Homo sapiens: one gene and its partners. The protein of the gene in region 3 purifies or fractionates together with the protein of the main gene of each other region. This does not show direct contact. Each region holds a gene or a part of one and is shown on either strand. Other genes may lie near its edges.

Region 1 (3,500 bases), on a different chromosome or scaffold from region 3:
GTGGGCAGATCACGAGATCAGGAGATAGAGACTATCCTGGCCAACATACTGAAACCCCGTCTCTACTAGAAATACAAAAATTAGCCTAGCATGGTGGCATGTGCCTGTAGTCCCAGCTAATCAGGAGGTTGAGGCAGAAGAATCACTTGAACCCAGGAGGCGGAGGTTGCAGTGAGCCCAGATCACACCACTGCACTCCAGCCTGGGTGACAAGTGAGACCCCATCTCAAAAAAAAAAAAATTCTTCAATGTACCCTGATTATATACTGCTACCATGTTATCTGTGTCTTTTTTCGGTCATGTCTGTCTCTCCTTACTAAACTACAAGTTCCTTGAGGGCAGAGAGAATGAATGTTAACAAAACATACAGATTTTTATCTCCAGTGCTTTGCCAACCTAATACAGCTAAATTTAAGATGGAGAAGGAAGCTAATCCTAGGTACACAATAAGGTATACAGTCAGACACTGCTAACAAGTTTGAAAAGCACAAGGGCTATGAACTAGCTGTTACTGAATAAAACACAAAGAATAAATTATAAATAATGTAAAATATATAAATAAGAAACAACGGAATTTAATGGGCTACAGGCTCAACTCTAATCGATTTTTCCTCAGTGAAAGGTCTTTCAGACTTTCTTCCTAAAGTGTTAAAAACCAACCAAGTAACCAACCAACCAACCTTCCGCCCTTATTTCTGCCATAAACAAATTAGGCTGATAGATCTGCCTTACATTCTTTTGTTTGCTCAGCTACTGACATCAATATATTCCAACTGGAAATTTCAATCAGATCACTGGTCTGAATTCATTACTTAGTTTCTGTAAAGGTTAACTAAATTTACAACAATAATACATTTGGATGCATGTTTCTCCCAGGAAGAGTTGACAGGATGTGTGATTTAGGCTATGAAAATTTCACAATTAGGTAGAAAGTGGTCTAAACCAAGAATAACTGGTAATCACTGTTATTAAGGAATTTTAAAGTCTTCTGGGCCAAATGGTCAGATACTGAATGAGCTAATCATTAAACCTGACTCTGACGATGTAGTCAATTGTTACTCAAAATTAAACTATTAATTGTCCCTCACATCCTTATAAATACAGGGACACCTCGGAAATAGAAGGCTCAAAACACAGACTCAGAAAGCATGTTTTAAAAGACTTTCCCATGAACAGTCCACAATAACCAAGGTCCAATTAACAGAAGGATTAACTTTTTGGTAACTACCAAGGGATTAACAAAAAGATACTTTTCTTACTTAGAGGAAAGTAACCTTTCATGACATACAGTTATGCATCACTTAACGAGAGGGATATGATCTGAGAGATGCATCGATTTTGTCACTGTGCCTTAGCGTACACAAACCTAGATGGTATAACCTACTACACACCTAGGCTATATGGTTGGGCCTATTGCTCCCAGACTACAAATCTGTACACTATGTTACTGTAAGGAATACTTTAGGCAACTGTAACACAATAGTATTTGTGTATCTAATCTATCTAAACATGAAAAAGGTACAGTAAAAATATGGCACACCTTATAGGGCACTCACCATGAACAGAGCTGGCATACCTGGAAGCTGCTCTGGGTGAGTCAGTGAGTGGTGACTGAATGAAAGGCCTAGGACATTACCATACACTGCTGTAGATTTTATGAGCACCGTACACTTAGGCTACACTAAGTACAGACAGGGTCTCACCATGTTGGTCAGGCTGGTCTCGAACTCCTGACCTCAAGTGATTCACCCACCTCGGCCCCGCAAAGTGCTGGGATTACAAAACAAAGTACGCTACAACTTTACGCTATCACCAGGCGATAGTAATTTTTCAGCTCCGCTATAATCTTATGGGACCATTATCATAAATGCAGTCCATCCTTGAGAACGTCATGCAGTACATGACTGTGTTAAGATGTGGCCAAATTCCTCTCAGAAACGGGACTCTTTGAGAAATAATTGGGAAAATAGGAGTTTAGTACTCCTAGACTCAAAGTGATTTCTTGCCTAAAGAATTCTAAAACTCTCATTTCCATGTTTTTAAGACAAGATATTAAGAGTGTCTTTGTGAAGCTGAGAAAAACTGCATGTATGAGAAATAGGCTCAGAATGTTCAAAGAACCTGATGGCCACAAAGTCTCTGAAGGTATAAAAAGGAGAACTGATTGGTGATCAAAATGAGTAATAACGGCCAGGCTCAGTGGCTCACACCTGTAATCCCAGCATTTTGGGGAGGTCAAGGTGGGAGAATTGCTTGAGCCCAAAAGGTTGAGACCAGCCTGGGCAACATAGCGAGACTCCCGTTTCAACAAAAAACTTAAAAATTAGCCAGGAATGGTGGCGCGCACCTGTAGTTCTAGCTACTCGGGAGGATGCCTGAGCCCAGGAGGCTGCAGTGAGCCTTTATCTCACCACTGCACTCCAGCCTGGGCAATAGAGTCACTGTCTCAAAAAAACAAAACAAAAAGGTAATAATGATAATAAATAACGGCACTAAGTGGTTTTATGCTGGCACATATACTTTGCATACATAACGAAACTAGAAGTTAACTAATTTGCCTGCCTAAAAAGTAGAGATTTAAGAGCAAAGTCCTCTGACCTTAAGCCCAAGTAGGCGCTTACATTACGTGTTGTGTTATACTGCCTCCTATAGGTAATTGGAGACTGAAGAAAAACGAAAAACAAAATGATTGCACTCTGCCCAAAAGAGATCAGGAACCTGTTACTCATGTTACTCATGTTAAGACAAACAGGTATTTATATAGGTGGTACCTGGGGGGTTGATAACAAGATATCCCCTCAAGATTAGTTATAATGAAAGTAATAAATGATTAAGATCAATTCAAAGTGAAAACACCCAAAATCCAATCAAGGAGACCAATATATAACCTTAGGACACACAGGACTTACTAAAACTGTAGCCCTTAATATATGTATATTGTATAGAATGTCCCAAAGAAAGGAGATGGCCTGCAGATTACATTGATGGGGGAATTTAAAGGAGTGATGAGGAAGAGAGTCGTAGTTCGGGTCAAGTTTAGAAAGGTTTTTCCTAGGAATTCCAAGACGCAGATACATACCCAGAGGAGAAGAATACACTCAAGCTGAGGCTACCTTAAGGTTATCCAATTAATGCCCCTTCTTCTGATTTCAGGTTCACTAAAGGAGCTAATTATAATTTGCATTCCCATTCAGATTTGCCTACAGGGAGAGACTATGCTGATAAAGAGGAATTGGTCCACAGCCGATTAAGAAAATTCATCCCATTTAAAATTTTCTAAGTAACCAACATAGCCCTATTTGGAAAATTAAACTTTCATTTTCACAAGTCCCTTGCAACTCCATCATCTTACTACATAACTTCAGGAATGTTACTTAACCCTTTAAGGCTTTAGATTCCTCTTCTGTAAAATGGGAACAAAAAATAAATACTTTGCAGAATAAATGTGTTTGGCACACGGAAAACCAGGAGCTGTTAGTTCCATTTCACTCTATTGCCCA
Region 2 (3,500 bases), on a different chromosome or scaffold from region 3:
AGGCTTTGAAGGCAACACTGCATTTCTTTTCACCAAACTGATTCTATTAGGATCATCCAAAGATCCAGAATGCTCAAGAGACTTTGCATATACCACAGAACTATCTTTCGGCCAACTCTTTTCAGTTAATGACAAATTATGAAGTGGTTCTATTGGTTTTGGGACATGTGGCTTATTGGTATTGGCCTTGACTGCAATGCTAGGAGAGGGCCGGGAAGTATGGCTTACATCGGGTTGATTTTGACTAACAGTTTTTCCTTGCGCTTCGTTTCTACTTTGACAAACAATGACACTTCTCTTTTGAGAACTGTTTTCATCATCTTCTACAAACACTTTTTTTCTATTAGGACACGTTGGAAAGGGGGCTTGAGGTGTTTTAGAAACGATGTTAGTCAGAAAGGAAATCCCAAGACTATAGCCAAGTTCTTGCACAGCAGCAAGGCTGCTCTTCTCAACAAATAGAGAGGAAGAATAAATGTAGTTTAAAACATTATCAAAAGCATCTGGCTCACAGAAGTCAAGCTGAAATACAGTTTGTGACTCATTTTCCTTATTTGTGAATAAACTCTGAAAGTATTCGCTGCTGGCAGCCAAGACGTTTTTATGAGCTCGGAACTTTTGGTCTCCAACAATCAGCAGCACATCACACAGCTGTCCTTTGAGACGCTCCTCATTCAGGGCACTTAGGAGAGAAATGGCGTGTGCAGGGTTGATGTAATGCAGTAATCCCTCCATGGCTTGAGTTTATCTAAAAGACAAAATGTAAAATTACTACAGATATTGCAGTGAAAAGTTCCCCTGGCTCCTCAAGAGCAGGGAACATCAGCTGTCTTTGCATAGGTACCAATATTTAGCAGACCGTAGGCTAACAGAAGCTCTATGAATGAACAATCTTATTTAAATAATGGTGAAAATGTAAAATAAGTCTCGTGGTTTAAGTAGGTCCTCATTAAAATAGAAGAATTGCAGGAACTATAATATAGGCATTTGTATATCATCAAAAAGGCTGCCAGAACTTGGCAGGTAGATATGGAAGCAATATTTGAAAATAAAGGTTTATTATTTAGGGTCCTTATCCATTTGATGCTTGGCACTATTCCTTACCAATTCAGAAAACAAGTACGAATTATCAAACCCCTGAAGTCTATAATTCTGAAAGAAAATCAGCTTTATTACTACATATACTTAAACATAATGTGAACTGTTAACAATTGGTTGCAAAGCAGGTCTTGTGAGACCCTTGTTTTTATTTTGAGACAGGGTATCTCTCTGTCACCCAGGCTGGAGTGCAGTGGCACCATGATGGCTCACTGCAGCCTCAATCTCCTGGGCTCAAGCAATCCTCCCACTCAGCCTCCTGAGTAGCTGGGACCACAAGCACATGCCACCTTGCCAGGTGATGCGGTTTGGTGGTGTCCCCACCCAAATCTCCTCTTGAATTGTAACTCCCACAATTCCCACGTCGTGGGAGGGACCCAGTGGGAGGTAACTGAATCATGGGGGTGGGTCTTTCTCGTTCTCTTCTCATGATAGTAAGCCTCATGAGATCTGATGATTTTATAAAGAGGAGTTCCCCTACACAAGTTCTCTCTTCCCTGCTGCCATGTGAGATGTGACTTGCTCCTCCTTGCCTTCCACCACGATTAAAAGGCCTCCCCAACCACGTGGAACTGTGAGTCCACTGAACCGCTTTTTCTTGTAAGTTACCCAGTCTTGGGTATGTCTTTATTAGAAGTGTGAAAATGGACTAATACAGTAAATTGATACCAGTAGAGTGGGGCACTGCTGAAAAGATACCCGAAAATGTGGAAGCGACTTTGGAACTGGGTAACAGGCAGAGGCTGGAACAGTTTAGAGGACTCAGAAGAAGACAGGAAAATGTGGGAAACTTTGGAACTCCCTAGAGACTTGCTGAATGGCTTTGACCATAATGCCAATAATGATACAGACAATGAAATCCAGGCTGAGGTAGTCTCAGATGGAGATGAGGAACTTGTTGGGAACTGAAGCAAAGGTGACTCGTTATGTTTTAGCAAAGAGACTGGTGGCATGTTGCCCCTGCCCTAGAGATCTATGGAACTTTCAACTTGAGAGAGATGATTTAGGGTATCTGGCAGAAGGAATTTCTAGGCAGCAAAGCATTCAAGAGGTTCTCAGGTGCTGTTAGAGGCATTAAGTTTTATAAGGGAAGTAGAGAATAAAAGCTTGGAGAAGTTGCTGCCTGACAGTGCGATAGAAAAGAAAATCCCATTTTCTGAGAAGAAATTCAAACTGGCTGCAGGAATTTGCCTAAGTAAGGAGGAGCCGAATGTTAGTCACCCAGACAATGGGGAAAATGTCTCCAGGACATGTCAGACCTTTGCAGCAGCCCCTTCCATCACAGGCCCAGAGGTCTAGGAGGAAAAAATGGTTTTGTGGGCCAGGCCCAGGGCCCCCTTTCTGTGTGCAGCCTAGGAACTTGGTGCCCTGTGTCCCAGGTGCTCTAGCCATGGCTGAAAGGGGCCAAGGTACAGCTTGGGCCATGGCTTCAGATGGTGCAAGCTCCAAGCCTTGGCGGCTTCCATGTGGTGTTAAGCCTGCAGGTGTGCAGAAGTAAAGAACTGAGGTTTGGGAACCTCCGCCTAGATTTCAGAGGATGTATGAGAACACCTGTATATCCAGGAAGAAGTCTGCTGCAGGGCTGTGTCCCCTCCATGAGGGGCAGGGCCCCATGGAGAAACTTCTGCTAGGGCAATGCAGAAGGGAAATGTGGGGTTGAAGCCCCCACATAGAGTCCCCACTGGGGCACTGCCTAGTGGAGATGTGAGAAGAGGGCTACCATCTTCCAGACTCCAGAATGGTAGATACGTCGACAGCTGGCACTGCGTGCCTGCAAAACTCACAGACACTCAATGCCAGCCCATAAAAGCAGCCAGGAGTGGGGGCTATACCCTGCAAAGCCACAGGGGCAGAGCTGCCTAAGACCATGGGAGCCCACCTCTTATATCAGCTTGACCTGGATGTGAGACATGGAGTCAAGGGAGATCATTTTGGAGCTTTGAGATTTGACTGTCCTGCTGAATTCTGGACTTGCACCGGGGCCTGTAAGCCTCTGTTTTGGCCAATTTCTCCCATTTGGAACGGCTGTAGTTACCCAATGCCTGTACCCCCACTGTATCTGGGAAGTAACTAACTTGTTTTTGACTTTGCAGGCTCATAGGCGGAAGGGATTTGCTTTGTCTCAGAAGAGACTTTGGTCTGTGGACTTTTGAGTTAATGCTGAAATTAGTTAAGACTTTGGGGGACTGTTGGGAACGCATGATTGGTTTTGAAATGTGAAGACATGAGATTTGGGAGGGGCCCAGGGTGGAATGATACAGTTTGGCTGTGTCCCCAGCAAAATCTCATTTTGAATTGTAGCTCTCACAATTCCCCACATCTGGGAGGCACCCAGTGGGAAGTAACTGGATCATGGGGGCAGGTCTTTCTTATGCTCTTCTTGTGATAGTGAATAAATCTCA
Region 3 (3,500 bases):
GGCTTATTTGGGTCAGAGAGGTGAGATCAACAGGAGGTTGATCTGGTACTGAGACTTAAGGTAATAATGTGAAAGTGTTATCAGGGCAAGCTTTAGCCTCAGCACTATTGATATTTTGAGCCAGATAAGTCTTTGTTGGGGGGAGGAGTAGACCGTGTTCTACACCATAGGGTGTTAAACAGTGTCCCTGGCCTTTACCCACAAGATGCCAGTAGCACCCCCTACTCTATTTGTGACAACCCAAAATGTCTCCAGACATTGCAATTCACTCCCAGTTGAGAGCCACTGACTTACAGCATAGACCAAAGGCACAAAAAGATCAGATCATGCTTCTCCGTGAGCTGGGCACAGTGGCACGCACTTATAGTCCTAGTTACTTGGGAGGCTGAGGTGGGAGGATTGCTTGAGCCTCAGAGTTAAGAGCCAACCTGGGCAACATAGCAAGACCCCATCCTTTAAAAAAAAAAGAGGGAGTTGAAAGTACAGAAAAGAAAGGAAAAGTAAGCATCCCCTGTGGATTCCTCTTTCTAGGCATGATCAAGCAGTTCCTCCGAGATGTGGACTGGGGAGAGGTCGACTACCTCATTGTGGACACCCCACCTGGGACGTCGGATGAACACCTCTCGGTCGTCCGGTACCTGGCCACAGCACACATCGATGGAGCAGTGATCATCACCACTCCCCAGGTGAGCGAGCTGCCAGCTGGAGCTGGGTCCAAACTGTGCTCCACACTGTGAGATTTCTTTCCTACCTGGCTCTGATACTCTGGTCTCACCAAGGCTCTTCCCAGTGTGTGTTCCGCAGCTGCATCTGATGTGGGTCTGCAGAAACCTCGTGTTAAAAACTTCAGCCAGCACAGTGATTCACACCTGTAATCCCAGGACTTTGGGAGGCTGAGATGGGAGGATCACTTGAGCCCACGAGTTCGGGACCAGCCTGAAAAACATAGCAAAACCCCATCTCTACAAAAAATATTTTAAAATTAGCCAGGCATGGTGGCTCGCGCCTGTAGTTCCAGCTACTTGGGAGGCTGAGGTAGGAGGATCATTTGAGCCTGGGGAAAGGAGGTTGCAGTGAGCCATGATCACGCCAGTGCAGTCCAGCCAGCGCAAGCGAGTGAGGCCTTGTCCCAAAAGATAAAAATAAGAAAAACTTCATCTTTGGTCTAGACATTTGCAGCTGACAACCATTCAACGATTTGGTTTTTTTTTAGTCCATGGATTAAACAATAGTGGGTCAAGAATGCTTTTTGAACTTTCCTTGAGGAAACTAGGGAAACCACCAGTGCAGTTATAATTCATACTGTGCTGCCTGGCCCCGTCAGCCTTGCCGTGTCCATGTGTCAGGTCCCCCAGCCTACAGTGGATTTTCCGTTTACATCCCAGGATGATTTAGGAAATCTCTCCAGTTTTCAACAGAACCAGCTGGGTGCAGATAGGGATTTCGGGATAAGCCACTGGGTGCCTTCGCTTCTTCCGTAGTGACACCCAGCAACCCTCTGTAGCAGTCACCTAGTGGCTGTACTCCAAGGCCCATGGTGAGCCCGAGCTGAGAGGAGAGCGATAGGAAGTTTCCTCTCTGTAAGTCCTGCAGAGAGCAACTGCAGGCAGGACCATGGTGCTATCCATCTCAGGGGCCTGAGAAACTGAGGGCTCTTCTCCATCTCCACAGTTACGCCTGACTTCTCTTCATGACGTTCTCCTCCACACTTAAGAAAGCCCAGCAAAGGAGGTTTGATTTGATCTCACTGGCCAGAATCAGTCAGGACGACCCATAGTCTCACCTCATCCAGCACTCACTGAGCTCTGACTCTGACATGCCGGGCACCAGGGCAGTAAAAAGGCCTGGCTCTCCCTGGTGGCCCCTGTGGCTCCCTGAGGAACACAGGTGCTGGACACAGGGATGAGGGTACAGCCAATGGAGTGGCAGGCCCAGCGGCCATGGGAAGGGTGTCCGGGTCAGAAAATGGTGCAAGATTCATGTCCACCCTGGCATCCTGCAGAGAGGGGACATGGGGACGCAAGGAGGAGCAGGACACCAGCTGGGACCCTGGACAGGAGGGAGGATGGCCTGGCCCGGGTGATGGCAGTGGAGAGAAAGTGTATTTGTCCTTAGGAATGTTTTCTGTCCCATTTTTAAAAAGTGGTTGGTGCTGGGCACACTGGCTCATGTCTGTAATCCCAGCACTTTGGGAGGCCGAGGCAGGCAGATTACTTGAGGTCAGGAGTTCGAGACCAGACTGGCCAATATGGCAAAACCCTGTCTCTACCAAAAAAATACAAAAATTAGCCAGGCGTGGTGGTGGGCACCTGTAATCCCAGCTACTTGGGAGGCTGAGGTGGGAGAAGTGCTTGAATCCAGGAGACAGAGGTTGCAGTGAGCCGAGATCGCGCCACTGCACTCCAGCCTGGGCGACAGAGCAAGACTCTGTCTCAAAAAAAGAAAGAAAGAAATGAGAGACTGAGTCGCAGCCCATTGACTTTCTAGCTGAGCGCCCCTTCCTCCGCATCCCAGCCTCAGTGTCAAGAGCCAAACAGGCATCTCAGGAAAAGAACAGGCCCAAAGCTGCGAGCCTTTCGGGCTCACGTGAGTGGTGAAGCTCCAGGTGCTAAGGAGTCACTACACCTGACAGTGACAAGCCACAGCAGGACTTGGGTACAGGGATCTGTGATAACATTAACTGAGGAAAATAGGGAGCTACTGAGCGGTGTTTATACACAGTAATCACATTGGAAAAACTCAGAGTTGAGAAGGAAATGCAAAGTTGTCCACATTGGGCAGTATTCCTTATTTCCTTTTAGTCAGTTGTTTGTGTTTATAATTATCTAGAGCAGGGATTGGCAAACTTTTCTGTAAAGGGCCAGATAGGAAGTAGGCGTTGCGGACCCCACGGTCCCTGTCCCAGCCCCTTAGCCGTGCCACTGTGGCATGAAGCAGCCACAGACGGTGCCTAGAGGGACGGGCATGGCTGGTTCCGGAGGAACTTTATTTATAAAACCAGCCAGATTCAGCCCCCAGGCTGGGGTTTGCCAAGCTCTGGTCTAGAAAACAGTGCACACACTGGCTTAATATAGTATAGTATAGGGACATGGAGCATGTAGATGCGTTAAAAGGTCATTTTCAGATAGGCACAGTGGCTCACGCCTCTAACCCTAACACTCTGGGAGGCCGAGGCAGGAGGATCACTTCACACCAGAAGCTTAAGACCAGTCTGGGCAACAACCATCTCTATAAAAAATTAAAAAGTTAGCCAGGCAGAGTAGCACATGCCTGTAGTCCCAGCTACTCTGGAGGCTGAGGCAGGAGGATTGCCTGAGCCCAGGAGGTCAAGGCTGCAGTGAGCAATGATTATGCCACTGCACTCCAGACTGGGCAGCAGTGAGATCCTGTCTCTAAAAAAAAAAGTCATTTTCTTTTAGGTTGATTTCTTGCTATTTGGCTGTGTGGGAAGTAAATAGCACCTCGAACAAACAGGGCTTAGCACTAGTAGGTACTAAATA
Region 4 (3,500 bases), on a different chromosome or scaffold from region 3:
CTCTCACTGTGCTTTCTTTGTATTTCCAACTTGCCTTATAAAGAAGAAAAAGTGTACCCGGGCTGACACTCTTCCCACAGAAGCTCTGCTCGTTGAGATAATAACTCATCAACACTGCTTTACTAAATCCCTTTTCTGTAATTTCTCTTCTTTCTAGAACAGGCAATTAAATAATTTAACCCTCATGAAAATTCTGAGGTCTTTTTTACCTGAGGCTGTTTGGCAACTGTTATCATCAAGTGATGACAGACAGGATTTATAAGCAAGCTCAAAGTCTGAATTACATTTATCATCTAACAGAGCCAGCATGATAAGCAGGCAAAAACCATGCTAGCAAATATATTTTGTAAGATTTATTTCTGCCATCTGGACTGATGCCAATGACTCTGGTTTGGTATAAAAATGCTACATCTCAATTCTAGGTGAGCAGATTACAATATACAAATTCAATTAATTCTCCTTTGTCATGTCAAAATACTTAAAGTATTTAAATGTATCTTACAAATGTCATTGTTTTAGTAAACTGTTTATAACACTAATAGTAGATACGTAGGAAAATGTGTGACTTAAAAGTTAGAAAACACTTGTTTTCAAATCTATAATCATAAAGGAATCTCTCACCCCAACCCTGATGTCTAGTGAATCTAGAAAGATTCTGATGTCTAAGACTTACAAGTTTTATATTTAAACACCAGTTAATCTAAAACTAGATTAACTTCATATCTAAGATTTACCTTGTAAATCTGAGGAATCACTACATAAAAATGTTTATGTTGTTCTCCATTAAAGTTTTGTAATTGTGCAGCATATTCATTTTTATTTTCATCGGCCATATGCGTACGCAGATTCAACTGCTGTTTGGCCTAGGGGCAAAATGGTCGAAATTATTATCAACAACAAAATCACAGCAATTCACTTTTTTGAAAATTATACTAAAACTAGATTTTATCAATGAAGAAGCCAACACCTGACATCAAAAGAATAATGACGTGGCATAACTTTTTTGAACTATTAATATCATTTAAAATATATTTTATATTTAAAGACACCTGCAGATCTTACTGTCAGAGTGGTCTCCTTATTACAATATTCTTCCCTCTCTCATTACAATAGTATTCCCTGATAGCAATAAGACATTCTAATATAGACTCTCCTTACCAAATCCAGATAAAAAAACAAACAAATGAAAACATTATAGCTTGAAACAGTGTGCTTTTAATCAGAAGAGAAAAACAGGTAGCTTTAGGAATATTTTCAGATTGTTAAAAAAGTTAACAGTAAAACATTTATGATCCAACTATATCCAACTAAAATATGGAACTTAAATCACAGTGAAACTAAATAATAATATGATTGTTGAATAATGCAACATTCAACAGTGTTTCCACCAATGTGTAGAACCACAGATACTTTAAGGAATGCTTATTTAGAATACAGTTCTGTTCCTCTTGATCTCTTGTACAAAGTCAAATTAAGGAATGCTTATTTAGAATACAGTTCTGTTCCTCTTGATCTCTTGTACAAAGTCAAATTACAACAGTTATTCTCTAACTAATTATTACCCCATCAACACATCTTAGCTTTCTAACCTATTTTGGAATAGGCTAAAAACTCAATCCCAGTAGCAACTACGTCTTTCCTCTAAATTTGAATGCAGCTAAGATATTGTAATAAATTAACATATATTACTTTCTCAGACCAATACGTATAATTTAAAGTTGGCAAATATTTGTATATTTTAGACTTAGATACAGTGTATCTCAAGTAAATCCTAATACTGTAGTCATACAAATGTCGTGACTACTTTCCTTATGCAAATAATAATATTTTGACATTAAAGTTGGTTTGGAGTATTTCTTACCTTTTCAACATCTGCCTTGGTTGCATTAGTATCATTATCCAATCTTTCATAACTCTGTTGTGCCTTTTCTGCCTCTCTACATTCTCTTTCAAACTTCTTTTTACTCTGTTAAAAAAATTAAAATATCACACTGAGAAAATAAAATCAGGCTAACTTCATTTAAGAAATAACTTTAGAGAGCATTAGGAGAAATAACTAACATAGATGACGGGTTGATGGGTGCAGCAAACCACCATGGAACATGTATACCTATGTAACAAACCTGCACGTCCTGCACATGTATCCCAGAACTTAAAGTATAATAATTTTAAAAAGAGAGAAAAAAGAAATAACTTTAAAATGTGCCACTGTGTATTGTGTGGAAATGAACTGCGCACTAAGTAAAATTTGTCCTTTCTAAATTAGAAAATAAATTTTACTATTACAACCAATCCACGTTCCTTAAATATCAGACATTAATTACAGACTATGAGGAAAAATAACATAGGCATGACTGAGTTAATATTTATTATATATCTCACTCAAAAAATGTGTGTTTTATAATTTTTTTATAAAAAATATAAGTCCTCATCTTCAGGAGGACTTTTTTGGTTTGGTGTTTTTTGTTCAGTTGGTTTGTTTTGGCATTTATTTTTATACTTTTTTGGTGAGATCCAATGTAGCTTGGGTATATGGAGCGTCCCTCCAAAGTGGTTTTATATTGTTTCTTCCAGGTGTCCCACGAAGAACATCAGCCCAGACCCCAAATCTTTTTAAATTTTATTTCATTCAAACTATTATGACTTTGTAAAAACTATTCACAACTGAGCCATGTAAAATATATGTCATATTACATTTTCTTTCCTACATAATTTTTTGATATTCTGGAGTTAATACATGTCTTCATTTTTTCAATTTGCTTAGTTTCCAATGCATAATTCAACCAGTTTTTTCCAGTTCTTTAAAACTGACTGCAGTTAATTCTAACACATTAGGAATTCTATTGATTTTATTTTCTTGATAAATCTTTCCCAAAGGCTTCTAAACTTGCTGGAATTTGAACTCATTACCAACTAGGCCTAATGCATAGTTGTTACCTTAGCATTTCCCTCCCCCATCAACCTGTGGATTCATTTCACCTCCATCTTTGTTTGGATGTCCTATTTCCTAGTTGTATGCTTTCTCCGTTCTTGATTCACTTCCTCATTTTGCTAGAACACATTCAGCAGCAGCCTCCTAAAAGGTCTGCAGGAGATAACTGAATCTCCATGGCTAAAAATGCATTTACCATCATTTTTAATTGACAAAATTTGGCTGGATATAGAACTCTAAGTTGGAAATCATTTTCCTTCAAAAACTTAAAAGTATTGCTCCACTATTCTTCTGGCTTCCTGTGTAACTATCCTGTCTATTCCATTCTGATTCCTGACCCATTGTATAAACCATGTTTGTTTGTTTGGGGTTTTTTCTCCCTGGAGGGTGGTAGAATCTTCTCTCTCTCCAAAGTGTTCGAAATTTCAAGAGATGTGGACCCACTGTGCTGAGCACATGGGATATCCTTTCCATCTGGAAATTCATGTCTTTCAGTTCTGGGAAAACTTTCTTGAGTTATTTTTGTCCTTTTCTATGTTTTGTTCCTTTTCTATGTTTTCTCTTTTCT

The links.
Region 1: the proteins of NUBP1 (region 3) and ZBTB10 purify together in Homo sapiens (affinity purification with mass spectrometry; one large-scale study listed by BioGRID and IntAct). This does not show direct contact.
Region 2: the proteins of NUBP1 (region 3) and ZBTB21 purify together in Homo sapiens (affinity purification with mass spectrometry; one large-scale study listed by BioGRID and IntAct). This does not show direct contact.
Region 4: the proteins of NUBP1 (region 3) and FNBP1L purify together in Homo sapiens (affinity purification with mass spectrometry; one large-scale study listed by BioGRID and IntAct). This does not show direct contact.

What each region holds. Positions count from the first base shown.
Region 1 is NC_000008.11:80,489,226-80,492,725, reverse strand, and holds part of ZBTB10 (zinc finger and BTB domain-containing protein 10), read right to left. Parts: intron 1-3,500. UniProt on the Homo sapiens protein: May be involved in transcriptional regulation.
Region 2 is NC_000021.9:41,993,361-41,996,860, forward strand, and holds part of ZBTB21 (zinc finger and BTB domain-containing protein 21), read right to left. Parts: intron 749-3,500; 5' UTR 736-748; coding exon 1-735. UniProt on the Homo sapiens protein: Acts as a transcription repressor.
Region 3 is NC_000016.10:10,757,342-10,760,841, forward strand, and holds part of NUBP1 (cytosolic Fe-S cluster assembly factor NUBP1), read left to right. Parts: exon of another isoform or gene 1-531; coding exon 532-686; exon of another isoform or gene 687-936; intron 937-3,500. UniProt on the Homo sapiens protein: Component of the cytosolic iron-sulfur (Fe/S) protein assembly (CIA) machinery. Required for maturation of extramitochondrial Fe-S proteins.
Region 4 is NC_000001.11:93,528,118-93,531,617, reverse strand, and holds part of FNBP1L (formin-binding protein 1-like), read right to left. Parts: intron 1,967-3,500; coding exon 1,862-1,966; intron 864-1,861; coding exon 735-863; intron 1-734. UniProt on the Homo sapiens protein: Required to coordinate membrane tubulation with reorganization of the actin cytoskeleton during endocytosis. May bind to lipids such as phosphatidylinositol 4,5-bisphosphate and phosphatidylserine and promote membrane invagination and the formation of tubules.